Regions from separate parts of the Homo sapiens genome. Here all the other regions are reported to be linked to region 3. The links are microRNA targets in miRTarBase. Many come from high-throughput screens and were not tested one by one. Region 3 holds a microRNA gene; each other region holds the end of a gene's coding sequence.
What was found. The annotated mature microRNA hsa-miR-101-3p reads UACAGUACUGUGAUAACUGAA and lies in region 3 at 2,241-2,261, opposite strand. An mRNA with a match to its seed (bases 2 to 7 or 8) in the 3' UTR can be bound and repressed. Matches are read on the target gene's strand: a 7mer-m8 pairs with bases 2 to 8, a 7mer-A1 pairs with bases 2 to 7 and ends in A, and an 8mer does both.

Region 1 (4,237 bases), not on the chromosome of region 3:
TCTCTGAGCTCTGAGCAGTCCTCACCCCACATGCATGCCTTTGCAGGTTCTCCGACCTCCCTTCCATTTCTGAGCTTTCATCTTTTTCTGTAACGGCATAAAAATATCCTCCTTATGGCCGGGCGCGGTGGCTCATGCCTGTAATACCAGCACTTTGGGAGGCCGAGGTGGGCGGATCACCTTAGGTCTGGAGTTCGAGACCAGCCTGACCCGCATGGAGAAACCCCGTCTCTACTAAAAATACAAAATTAGCCGGGTGTGGTGGCACATGCCTGTAATCCCAGCTACTAGGGAGTCTGAGGCAGGAGAATCGCTTGAACCTGGGAGGCGGAGGTTGCGGTGAGCTGAGATTTCACCATTGAACTCCAGCCTGGGCAACAAGAGCGAAACTCTGTCTCAAAAAAAAAAAAAAAAAAAAAAAAATTCCTCCTTACCTCCCTGTCCCTGATTCTAGCGCCAGTCTGTGGCTGTCCAGGAGTGGGGTGGGGAGGGTCTCTTCCTGCCTCTCTCAGTTCTTTTCTGTCCCATCTGTCTTTCCCCTTCTCTCCCCAAAGCTCTAGCCACTAGTTATTTTCCAGGGTTTTTCCTCTATGCCCCCCGCCAGTATCATCTCTGCCCTTGTCCCTCCATAGCTGCGCCTGGCCATCCCCCCTCCCTGCTCTCTTACCTCCACATCTGACGGTCTGCAGAGTCCTGGGTGTGGCCCCTGGACTCCCCGTTGGCTCCTTAGACTGTCCCTGTCCAATCTTTCTTCCACTCCCCACTCCCGCACCTGCCTGTCCTCCTTCCTTCCTCAATGAATGGTGCCCCCACCTGTCTGGTCTGTGCCATGGGTCCAGGCAAGTGCAAGGTTCCGGTCTTGGTAATTAGAATGCTGGAGCCACTGACAAAGATTTCAGAGAGAGAAAGGATTTCTAAATTTGTTCTTGAGTAGGTTAAGGTTATTTCAAAATCAAGAGAAGGCCTTGATGGATCGATATGTGAGTTGAGATAGCCACAGCCTTTGTTATGTCAGTTGTGTGAAGTGCTTGTAAAATCACTATTTTATTTTTTAATTTTTAATTAATTATTTACTTATTGAGACACAGTCTCACTCTGTCGCCCAGGCTGTAGTACAGTGGTGTGATCTCAGCTCACTGCAACCTCCACCTCCTGGCTTCAAGCGATTCTCCTGCCTCAGCCTCCCAAGTAGCTGGGATTATAGGCATGTGCCACCACACCCGGCTAATTTTGTACTTTTAGTAGAGACGGGGTTTCTCTATGTTGGTCAGGCTGGTCTCAAACTCCCAACCTCAGGTGATCCTCAGGATTATAGACGTGAGCCACCGCGCCCAGCTGCACAGCTCTTACAGCTATAAATTCCAGATCCTCTGAAGCTTTATTTTCTTCTCTAAGTATAGATGATAATTTTGATCACAGATTTTATTTTGATGCAAGTAGGATTGGAATAAAGCCCAGTCACTATGCCCAGGAAAGTCAAAGTGTCAAGAACAAAAAAATTTCAGTATTGGCCGGGCGCGGTGGCTCATGCCTGTAATCCCAGCACTTTGGGAGGCCGAGGTGGGCGGATCACAAGGTCAGGAGATAGAGACCATCCTGGCTAACATGGTGAAACCCCATCTCTACTAAAAATACAAAAAAATTAGCCGGGCGTGGTGGCGGGCACCTGTAGTCCCAGCTACTCGGGAGGCTAAGGCAGGAGAATGGCGTGAACCCATGAGGCGGAGCTTGCAGTAAGCGGAGATCGCGCCACTGCACTCCTGCCACTGTACTCCAGCCTGGGCGACTCCGTCTCAAAAAAAAAAAAAAAGAAATTTCTGTATCAATTCTGGGAGGGCAGGTACCATAGATTCTAGAATCAGAATGCATTTTATTTTTATTTATTTTATTTTTGAGACAGAATCTCACTCTATTGCCCAGGCTGGAGTGCAGTAGTGTGATCTCAGCTTACTGCAACCTCCGCCTCTTGGGTTTAAGCGATTCTCATGCCTCAGCCTCCCGAGTGGCTGGAATTATAGGCGCACACCACCATGCCCAGCTAATTTTTGTATTTTTAGTAGAAATGCACTCTCACCATGTTGGCCAGGCTGGTCTTGAACTCCTGGCCTCAAGTGATCCGCCCACCTCGGCCTCCCAAAGTGCTGGGATTACAGAAGTGAGCCATCGTGCTGGCCCTGAAAGCATTTTAATCCTAGTTTCATGTATTACCTAACCAAGATCTTTACCAAGTCTTGGCCAACTCAAGCTCCTTCCTTAGTTTTACAATCAGGTTGACCTAATCGCTGTAGAACTTTCTGCTCCTTCCTCAATTTGCAGAGCTTTGATTAAAATGGAAAATTACAGCCGGGCACAGTGGCTTGTGCCTGTAATCCCAGCCCTTTGGGAGACTGAGGCTGCCGAATGACTTGAGGTCAGGAGTTCCAGACCAGCCTGGGCAACATGGCAAAACCCCATCTCTACTAAAAATACAAAAAATTAGGCCAGGTGCAGTGGCTCACGCCTGTAATCCCAGCACTTTGGGAGGCCGAGGCAGGCGGATCACGAGGTCAGGAGGTTGAGACCATCCTGGTTAACACAGTGAAACCCTGTCTCTACTAAAAAATACAAAAAATTAGCCAGGCATGGTGGCAGGCACCTGTAGTCCCAGCTACTCGGGAGGCTGAGGCAGGAGAATGGTGTGAACCCGGGAGGCAGAGCTTGCAGTGAGCCAACATAGCGCCATCTGTACTCCAGCCTGGGCGACAGAGCTGTCTCAATAATAATAATAATAAAAATACAAAAAATTAGCTTGGCGTGGTGGTACATGCCTGTAATCCCAGTTACTCAAGATGCTGAGGCATGAGAATCGCTTGAACCTGGAAGGCAGAGGCTGCAGTGAGCCGAGATTGGGCCACTGCACTCCCGCCTGGGTGACAGAGTGAGACTCTGTCTCAAAAATAATTAATTAATTAAAATAAAATAGAAAATTACAAAATTATAGAATAAAATGTGTTTTATTCATGTTTTACAAAGTCTTTATTATCTGGATTGGGGATGCACAACCCACACTTAACCCCAGGTCTTAGGTCCAGAGTGGTGGTGGAGGACTTTAGCCCAGATCCAGTGACAGGACAAGTAAACAATGACACATTGGGCTTTCTGCCCTCAGGTTACAGTATCTCCACATGTAAGTGCTTAGAATATAGTGCAGTGAATAATAAGAATAGAGAAAACTGAGCAAGGGCTCTCCAGTGGCCAAAGATTCTCATTCCTGAGAAGCAAAAATTAGGTGAGGTAACTTGTCAGAGGAAGCAAATTCAGGGCTCACTAGAGAGCACAGAGCATTTGTCCATCAGCAGTTCAGTCATCGCCAGCTCTCCTGGTACCCTCGAACACTTCAGAAACACACACAAGTCAAGTCCCTCGATGGCTACACTAGGCGCCTATGGCTGGAGCCTCCTTGGCACGAGCGCACCATCCGAGGCACAGCTGCACTTCTGCACCCTCATGTTGGGCAGGCTGACCACCTGGGGCCTGGTCCTGCCTCCCTCCTTGATGCTGACGATCATGGGCAGCGAGTCAGTCTCCGAGGCGATGCACTGTCGAGGCCCCAGAAACGGCCACTTGAAGGCCAGGGCCTCCGGGGGCTGCCGGCAGGTGCCCACACACTCATAAGCCAGGAAGCCCGGGGGCTCCAGCACCCAGTTCTCGGCCCACTTCATCCCCTGCAGGTCAATGTACATCTCCTGGCGGCAGCAGCGGGTGCCCTCGGTCATTGGTGCTTCAGGGTCACAGTCGCCCTGAGCTCTGTGTGGGCAAAGAGAGCAGGGTCAGCGGTCAGCTGGGAGGGCTGAGGTCAGAGGGCGTCTGGGATGGAGATTTATGATCCACCTCTCAACTTCAAAAAGCTGGATGTTTGTGATATAGGATGGACAGCTAGAAATAACTTGAAAATTAATAACCGATATTTACTGAGGATCTCCTAAGAGTCAGAGGAAGAATTGTATACATTGTCTCATTCATTCCCACAGCACTCTGAAAAGTTGTCCATTTCAAAATAAATGTAATTGCCTGTCTCTTTATTCCGGCTTACCAGTTTGACCCTCAGCACCTACCCATAGTCCCCAAGGTCCAGGGTGTGCAGCTCCAGCTGGGGCTCCCCAAGCCCGGCTGGCGCCCCCTGCGAGGCAAAGCGGACCAGCTTGTGGGCGCCGGACGCCAGCGGGCCCAGATGCTCCCTCTGCACCGACACCTGTAG
Region 2 (4,237 bases), not on the chromosome of region 3:
CCAGAGGGGGCCGACGTGGCAGGAGGCTGGCTTTTCAGTGCTGCCCCAAGTGTGCACACACCCTGCTGAGCTGTGACAATGCCCAGCTTCGGCTCCAACCCCACTCTGAGATCTGGCTCCCGAGGGTGCACAGTGCGGATACCCAGGTCCTGTGCCTGGGAAGGCGAGTCTCCCACCTGCTCCATGGACGTGCAGGCGGCTCTGGCCATGCCTCCTCGCAGTCTGGGGTAGGGGTTCAGGTTCCTTGCTGGGCCCATGCTGGCATCTGAGGCAAGAGTGACGTCACCACAAGTTCTTCCTGTGGTCCCAGTGCTCAGGGGTGGCCTAGGGCTCTCCCTTGCCTGGCTCACAGCCCTGCCCAGCAGGAGTGCCTCCAGGAGCGGATTGCAGGCCCTGGGCCTGGTCCTAGGGAGCATCAGGCTCAGAGGTCACCCCGCTATGAGGCAGACCCTGGGGATCCGGCCCTGGGAAATCCTGCGCAGAGCCTCCTCCCAAGGCGCAGGAATCCGGCGCCAGTCAGCAGGAAGGGTGCGGTGGCCGTGCCACTGGCTGTGTCCCCAAAGTGAGCACCGCTCCCACTTCCCACTCCAGGCCCCCAAAGGACAGCCCCAGCTCCGCACCCCAGGCGCGGCCCCCGTGCTCCATGTGCAAGCATGGCACCACCCCGGGCCCAGCTCCGCCTGTGGCCCTTCTCTGCCTGGTCCTCCATGCACAATCACGCTGCTCCCCCGCCGGCAGGCAACTCAACCTGGCCACATTGCGGCGGCCCCCCGGGAGACAGGCTCCAGGGGTATCCCTGCAGCAGGCTCCAGGGACTCTCCGCCCTCCTGGCAACAGCAAGCAACAGTGGTGGTAACGCGGACCAGGGTCCAGAGCAGTGGTGGCTCCAGGCCTGGAGGCAGGCCCCACTCGGCCACACAGGGGTGGGGGCGGCGCAGTCGGCTGCCACAGGGACACGGGGCACAGGGAACGTGGGGCACAGGGGTCTCACCATCACCACGGCTGCTCCTGCAGCCACCACTCACACCTCCCTGCTACGGCCGGCACAATGGCAGCAGCCACTCCAGACGGCCCACTGCTGCCATCACTAGGTACCAATGTGTTTCCATCACTATTTCCCTCATGCTGACACCTTCCTGTGGAGGTGTCATTTTCTAATAAGCAATATTTTCCCACATCAGCTGGGATTCATAACATTTTGAAAAACAAATTACAATTTGAAGGTGGGGGACACCTTTTTATGGACATTACACTTTACTAAATATTTCCCTGGGTTTCTCTATAACTAAAAATAAAAACTATAAGGAGATACAAAATTTCTTAAGTGATCATAACTGGAAAGCAAAATTGCAGAAGCTACTGATTTTCTTGCTTACTCTAATTTTTCTATGATGATCATGCATTGCTTTGTGTATTAATTTGTCTTCACACTGCTGTAAAGAACTACCTGAGACTGGGTAACATATAAAGAAAAGAGGTTTGACTCACAGTTCCGCATGGCTGGGGAGGCCTCACAAAACTTCATCATGGCAGAAGGTGAAGGGAAAGCAAAGCACATCTTAACACGGTGGCAGGAAAGTGAGCGAGCAAGGGGGTAAATGCCAAACACTTTTAAACCATCAGACCTCGTGCAAACTCATGAAAACAGCATGGGGGAAACCATCCCCCATGATCCAACCACCTCCCACCAGGTACCTCCCTCAACACGTAGGGATTACAATTTGAGATGAGATTTGGGTGGGTGGGGACACAGAGCCAAACCGTCTATCATTTTGCATGATTTTTAGCATTCTAAGATCAAAAAGAAAAACATCACTTTCAAAGTACATGAATGATACCAATAATAGAAAAGAATATGACATTTTATTTTCACTTATGGACATACAGTACATGAATTTAGAAATAAAATCGTCGCAGGATTCTGAAATACTGATACCTTAAGATCTAACACACTGATATTAGTCCATTCCCTACAAAGCAGCCACATTAGCAGTTCAGATTTGGTCTTTGTTGTAGCTGTTGACATTAAGTTCTTTAAGTGAAATGCCCAGCAGCATTTAAATAATATTTTACAGCAGACATGAACTAAGTTTCAATATTCCATCTTTGGAACAAATTATGCTTATTTACATGTTAACAGGTGGCTATATTTACTTACCCTATTGTGAGTTTAATGACTGATTTTAAACTACAGAGGGTTTTCCAGCTATTATTTCCTTTAGTTTCTAAAAGTAACGACTTATATTAATGTTTTATAAAAGATAGTGATGAAAAAAAGGTAATGCTGAAATAAAGGCGCTTTTAGAAATATTTAAGGACAACATAAGGTATTAATATTGGAAAAAAACTGTACATATTTTCAAGCACAACACTGAAATATTGCAGCAGTGTTTAACTGAATTATTTAAAATAGTGGTAATTATACTACCTTACATACCGTTCTAATATTTAAATCTCTTAATTACAATTTGAATATACAATCTGACTTACAATTAGAACTATGCACAGTTTCCGAAGCATATTTTTCAGGTTTGTTTTTGCACAAAAATTAACGTTTAAGTTGGTCCTTGATTTGGAGTACTATAACTACCTGGAAGCACTAAGTTTTAGACACATTCATTGATAGCCAACAAAATCCTTGACAGAGTGAAAAACATCAAGAGTACCATGCGTGAAAAAGCAGCTGTTACCCTCCAAGTGCAATATGAAATCTAGAACAAGACCCTCTCAGAGGCCTGCGTGTCTCAATGAGTGACCCTCAAAGAAACCAAAATGTATAGGAGGAAGTAGCTGACCAGTCATGGGCATCTTCCACATTGGGATAATCTTTAAAACAGAGGCAGCTTTGGACCTCTAGCGTAAGAGATAGACTTTACATTCTTTGATTTTATTTACACTTTTTTAAAAAGATAAAGTATATCTGAATTCTCTCATCACACCTAAACTGCTGGTGCACTGGCAGTTCAAGCTGATTAAAGTCATGAGGCAGCCCACCAGAGACTTTAAAGAACCCCAGACCTCATCCTCCTCTTTCCTATCATGAAGTCACAGACTGTCTCATCAAACTACTTGATGTCTGTAAGAGACTTACATTTTATAAACACAGTTAGCTTATTACTGAACTTTTAAGAAAAGTCCAAAGATGTGTGGAAAAGTATGCCTGCTAATAGTGACCGCTTCTACAATGACAATAATGAAACTGAGCTACAAAAATAATTTTGCTGTTTTAAATAATGAAAGGAGCTAGGTTTTTAAAATATATTACTTATTCTGCAACAGCTAATTAAATTGACAATCAATAGAATACAATGAACAGATTCAGCTTCCATTCTGCAAGCTGAATTCAGGTTATATTTTAATTACAGAATAGCTTCAAATTATAAATCTAACTGTCCCAATAGTAAAGAGACCATCAAGGCAGTAACATCAGATCAATTCTGTCATCATCCTGCATGGAGCACAAGATGTGCTTTTGGATAAAGGCATTAAAAAGACCTTGGGCTGATGTGGAAAGCGGGTCAGTAAAGACTCCAGTTCTGCACAATGGAATCTTCCAAGCCAAGCCGCTTTCCACAAATACAAATTCAGTCTATCTTTTCTTTCTGGACCAGTCTGGGAGCATCGACAAAATCTTTGCCATTGTAAAGAATGATAAAAAATGTTCCAATGCTTGCAACTCCCCAGAAGAGCACATAGGCCAGTGTTTCTGTCCAAGTGTCACCTGTTGATATTAAGAAACAAAAAGCTAAATAAGTCGTTTGTTGATATCAGACCCAGTTTTCAGCTGTTTAGCACATTTTGGCAACATTAAAGTTTACTAGCACATTCACAGGAAAAATATAAGAACCTCTTAATTAAGGTTTAAACCAGTGGTTCTCAAACCCTGGCTAGTACCAGAATCTTCTGCAGGGCTTGATAAAGCATCAACTGTTGGGCCCCAGGAATCTGCATTCTAGCAAGTTCCTAGTACCCAGGTGATGCTGATGCTACCGATCAAGAGGCTACACTTTGAGAACCACTGGACTAAATGATTTCATATTATATTATACAAATAATAATGATCACTTTTAGTATATTTTAATAATACAAATAACTATTAAGTTTAATTCATAGTTCTATAACAGATATGAGCTATTGTCAAAACACCTGCACAAAAAATTAATAGAATATTCATAAATACCAAACATAAGTTATACATAACTTTTCTGAAGTTATGTATATTTTGTAGAGTATTTTT
Region 3 (4,237 bases):
GCACCTTATCTACAAATGACACCAAGGCTCCAAGATGCTAAATACCATTTCCACGGTCTCCTGGTAGCGCGTGGTAGAGCCTTAAGTCCAGATAGGCTGGACTCCAAGACTTGTGCACTGGCAGAATGCAGAGAGCTCTGGTAACTGCAGTCTCATTCCACAAATAATTTCTGAAAGTGCTAATTAAGATGCATCTTAATTTTTGCTATTTTTCTTGCTGTTAATCCAAAAGTATAAATCCTCCCTCCCTAAACTGTAAAATTAAGCTTGTTGAATGGAGGGTGCAACTACTGTCACTAACTGTAAGCCACCTAAAACTCAACAAATTTAACAGAAATAGAATCTTCATATACCAGTGATTATCCAACAGTATTTTATTCTACTGAAAAAAAATCTCTTGGGCCTTTCTAAAAGAGTTTCACATTGGCCGGACTTGGTGGCTCAGGCCTGCAATCCCAGCACTTTGGGAGGCCAAGGCGGGTGGACCACGAGGTCAGGAGATCGAGACCATCCTGGCTAACATGGTGAAACCCCGTCTCTACTAAAAATACAAAAAATTAGCCAGGCACGGTGGCGGGTGCCTGTAGTCCCAGCTACTCGGGAGGCTGAGGTAGGAGAATGGCGTTGAACCCGGGAGGCGGAGCTTGCAGTGGGCGGAGATTGCGCCTCTGCCCTCTAGCCTGGGCGACAGAGCGAAACTCTGTCTCAAAAAAAAAAAAAGAGTTTCACACATACAGACTTACTTTCTCAAGTAGCACAGAAAACCACCAACAGCAATCCCAATGCTCTTTACATAGACATTTAAAAAGCTGTTTTATACACACGAAAAACAGGTCCAAACTGCTTGAAGAAATGCTTTTTTTTTTTTAAACCAAGGAAGGTCTTGCTTCTGGTTTTCTTTAGAAATCTGAGGTTTCACAAAACAGGTTTCTATGACTTTAACTACACATAAAAATAAATGTGTTAGTTTGGTCTCCAAAGCTCTTGAATCCATTAGAATAAACTATTCCCCCACCATGATGGTCCTCACCGTGGATTTCATCCCTTTTTTATCCTCAACTGTACTCACAAATACAATGTTAACTTTGCCTGCTGCATCCTGCCTTTGCCCTTCATCTCTTTGTGCTGCTGGAGCTGTCCATAGTGATTAGGGGCAGAAAGAGTATGAAACAGATCCAGCTTTCTTGAAAATAGACTCCCTTACCTGTCTTTATGCTAGCTTACCAAAAAGAACGGAGGCTTCCCTTTCCCACCCTGGCAGACCCGTCTGCACAAAGCTCTGGGAGGCAGCAGAATATCTCTAAGCCCCAGCCTCAAGATACATCATCTTACAATTTGTGCTACTCCTTTAAAGCTCCATTCAGAGCAGGACACTGTTTTCACAGGAGAGGAAGTCATTTTATGCAAGTTTTCTGGAAGAAAAGACACTACAATTAATGTTTGGTGAGAAGATGTGTTGAAGAGGACACAGGAACTTTCAAAAATGTCCAGTCATATCTTGAGCATCTCTGCAAAGCTTGAAAACATCATACAGGTCCTGGAGCCAAATTGAAAAATCTCCAAAAGCAAAAGAAAAAAAGTGTCACGAAAAAAAACATATATGTATTCCATTTTCACAGAATGTTCTGCCAAACCCCATGCCCCAGGACCACACACATTCAAGACAACACCCCATACCTCATACCGTGTGTGCAAGCAGGACTTCCCCAGGCCTGAAGCAAGGGCTGGGAAACGGCAGCTACGAGCCCAGCTACAAAGCCGGTGGGGCCACAGTGGCCACACAGCTGGCAGCCGCCTCCAGTGAGCTCTCTACAGGAAGCGAGTCTCTGTACCTAGGGTGCCATTCTTCCAGCCCTCATCTCCTCTCCAAGTACTTAACTACCAAGTCTATTTTAGCATTGTTTACTACTGATGTTACCACGCCATTTAGGATTACTCAATTTTAGGTATCCTGTCCTACGAAATACTTTTACACAAGCTATCAGGAGATAATGTGGTCCTTACCAGTTTCCTGCTTATCAGTCTTCCCTCTCTGCTAACAGAATGTATTCTCTTCCATTTTCCTGTTCTAAAAAAACCTCCCACCACGAATTCCAAAAAAAAAAAAAAAAAGAAAAAAAAAAGCCTCCATAAGAATTTATTTCAAGCTCCTGGTTTTCATGCCCCCAACGCCATGGCCCAAGGGTGCATAGCCCCACCGCAGTCCTCAACCCTTTCTCAATGTGATGGCACCACCATTCTTCAGTTATCACAGTACTGTACCTTTCAGATATACAGCATCGGTACCATGATAACCGAAAAAGGACAGTTCAGTCTCATATCTACCTGAATATTCCCTGCCACCCAGCTCACCAACCTCAGATGGGCCATATGATGATCTCCAAGTATGCAAGCACGTGAAAACACACACACACAATGTCAGTACTCAAATAGGCTGTTTTCCGCAACCTCATTTACTATCAATAGGAAATGCTTCTTTCACAGTGTCATTTATAATTCAAGTCTTCTGACACTGTTCTTTTTGAAGAGTGCTTGCTTTTACACCACAGCAGTCAACTTCTGCTAACATTCAACAATCCAAACTCACTTCTACAATTCCCTACTAGTCCAGTAGCATTAATACAAACTCTGTCTTTTGTCATCTTTCCCAGTGAGCTCATATCCTATCATCTTAGACAAAAAGCCTGTTTTCCCACAGCAAGTTAGACAGCTAAGGAAAAGAATGATTAAAAAAAAACTAGTAATAAAATCCAAGCTACACCAAACCAGGAGTTTACCTCTAACCTGGAAACAAAATCTAAAGCACGAACAAAATAACTGCCCAATAGAGATCATGCAATTTCAGTTACCTGGGATTAAGGAAGGAAAGAAATGCAAAAATCCTTGTATGTAAAAATAAACACCAGGTTAAGAGTGACAACTGCTGGCTGATTTGAGGATAAACACAAGCAGGTGTTCATAGTGCAGGCTCTGTGCAGCACAACACCCTTTGTCATTTTGGGCAATGAGAAAATTACACTGGACAGAATAACGAGGTTGAAAAAGAATAACTTACGTGTAGGGAGAGAGAGGGCCTAGCAGGACTTTGGAAACATCCTGCTGTCCAAGGGTCATGAGTAGTAGCGCCAGGCTTTGGTTGGTCGAGTCTACGCATCCACCCTGTAAACACAAATTAATAATTGTACAAACCAGAAAATGGAAAGCCAACAAAAGAGAGGAGGAAAAAAAAAACCAGAAACATACACTCATAATATCAAAATCCAAAGTTCAAGCAACAATAAAACAGAATACAGGTCTTATAAGAGTAATCATTGTATCAACTAACTGTAGAGGGTTAAACTAACAGTTAATTAGAGCAACTGTAATAGTTGAGACTATCAGAATGAGACTATCAGATTCAAATCTTCTTAAGTGAATCTAGTAAAAAAAAAAAAAAATGAAACTTTCCCTTTATCATTAAAGCAGCAGCAGGAGGACATCATCTTTATTGAGTATATGCAAAAAAAAAAAAATCTTAATCAGTTCTAGAAGATGTAGAGTTAATTCCAAGGGTTAAGTGGATGACGCTCATATTTATTGAATCTGTCACAGAACAACACAGTCTATCTGACATGAAACGGCCTTTTCATGGCCTTACTTTTACACTTATTCAAATACATTCAGGAAACTGCTTGCCATACTCTATTAACTTCTCTCCTTTATCTCTTCCTGAGTTCCTTAAAACTGAAGACTTGTTAAGGTTAGATCCCTTTATTCTTACTACTTATGTATAAAATTATGCCTTCCACCCCCTTTTCCTTCCCTTTCTTCCAAATTAACAAGCAGAACAGACTTCTCTTCAAACACTTTCTCCTGAGGTACAACTGCTTAGGTTGCCTTTCTTCTTTTGTTTTTCATTTTCTCAGCCATTTTAACTGTTTTGCCTCCACTAGACGCATACATAAGCATACAAACACGCTTTCTGATCATTCTTTCTGGAATAACTTTAAAACATATTGTACATAGTCAAAGAAGGATGACCTTGAATTTCTACATATTTTGCACAGGTCAAAATTAGAAATCCAGTCTGACCAAGGCACGTTACTATCCAAGGCTAGACTGAACAGGATAGGTGGCCAGCAGTGTGGTTCATATGGCTACAACTGCCCCTGCCTCCTTTTTAAGGCATGTAGGGTAGGAAATAAATCCATTTTCAGATACAGACACTCTGAAATTCTCTGGCTGTCAGATATCATTT

Region 1: miRTarBase lists LEFTY1 as a target of hsa-miR-101-3p. Seed matches in the 3' UTR shown: 7mer-A1 at 3,151-3,157.
Region 2: miRTarBase lists SACM1L as a target of hsa-miR-101-3p. Seed matches in the 3' UTR shown: 8mer at 1,883-1,890.

The regions. Positions count from the first base shown.
Region 1 is chr1:225,883,305-225,887,541 of GRCh38, forward strand. LEFTY1 (left-right determination factor 1) reads right to left here. Exons shown (of 4, transcript NM_020997.4): 3 at 4,095-4,237; 4 at 2,978-3,786. The coding sequence ends at 3,423. Among named protein-coding and RNA genes, the nearest start is that of TMEM63A, 3.0 kb to the left of the region's middle. RefSeq lists an enhancer at 3,841-4,237.
Region 2 is chr3:45,743,017-45,747,253 of GRCh38, reverse strand. SACM1L (SAC1 like phosphatidylinositide phosphatase) reads right to left here. Exons shown (of 20, transcript NM_014016.5): 20 at 1,845-3,721. The coding sequence ends at 3,585. Among named protein-coding and RNA genes, the nearest start is that of SLC6A20, 51 kb to the left of the region's middle.
Region 3 is chr9:4,848,369-4,852,605 of GRCh38, reverse strand. MIR101-2 (microRNA 101-2) reads right to left here and starts at 2,309; the gene lies at 2,231-2,309. RCL1 (RNA terminal phosphate cyclase like 1) reads right to left here. Exons shown (of 9, transcript NM_005772.5): 8 at 3,056-3,159. It overlaps LOC124902113 (a long non-coding RNA gene), which reads right to left and starts at 2,239. Exons shown (of 2, transcript XR_007061402.1): 1 at 1-2,239.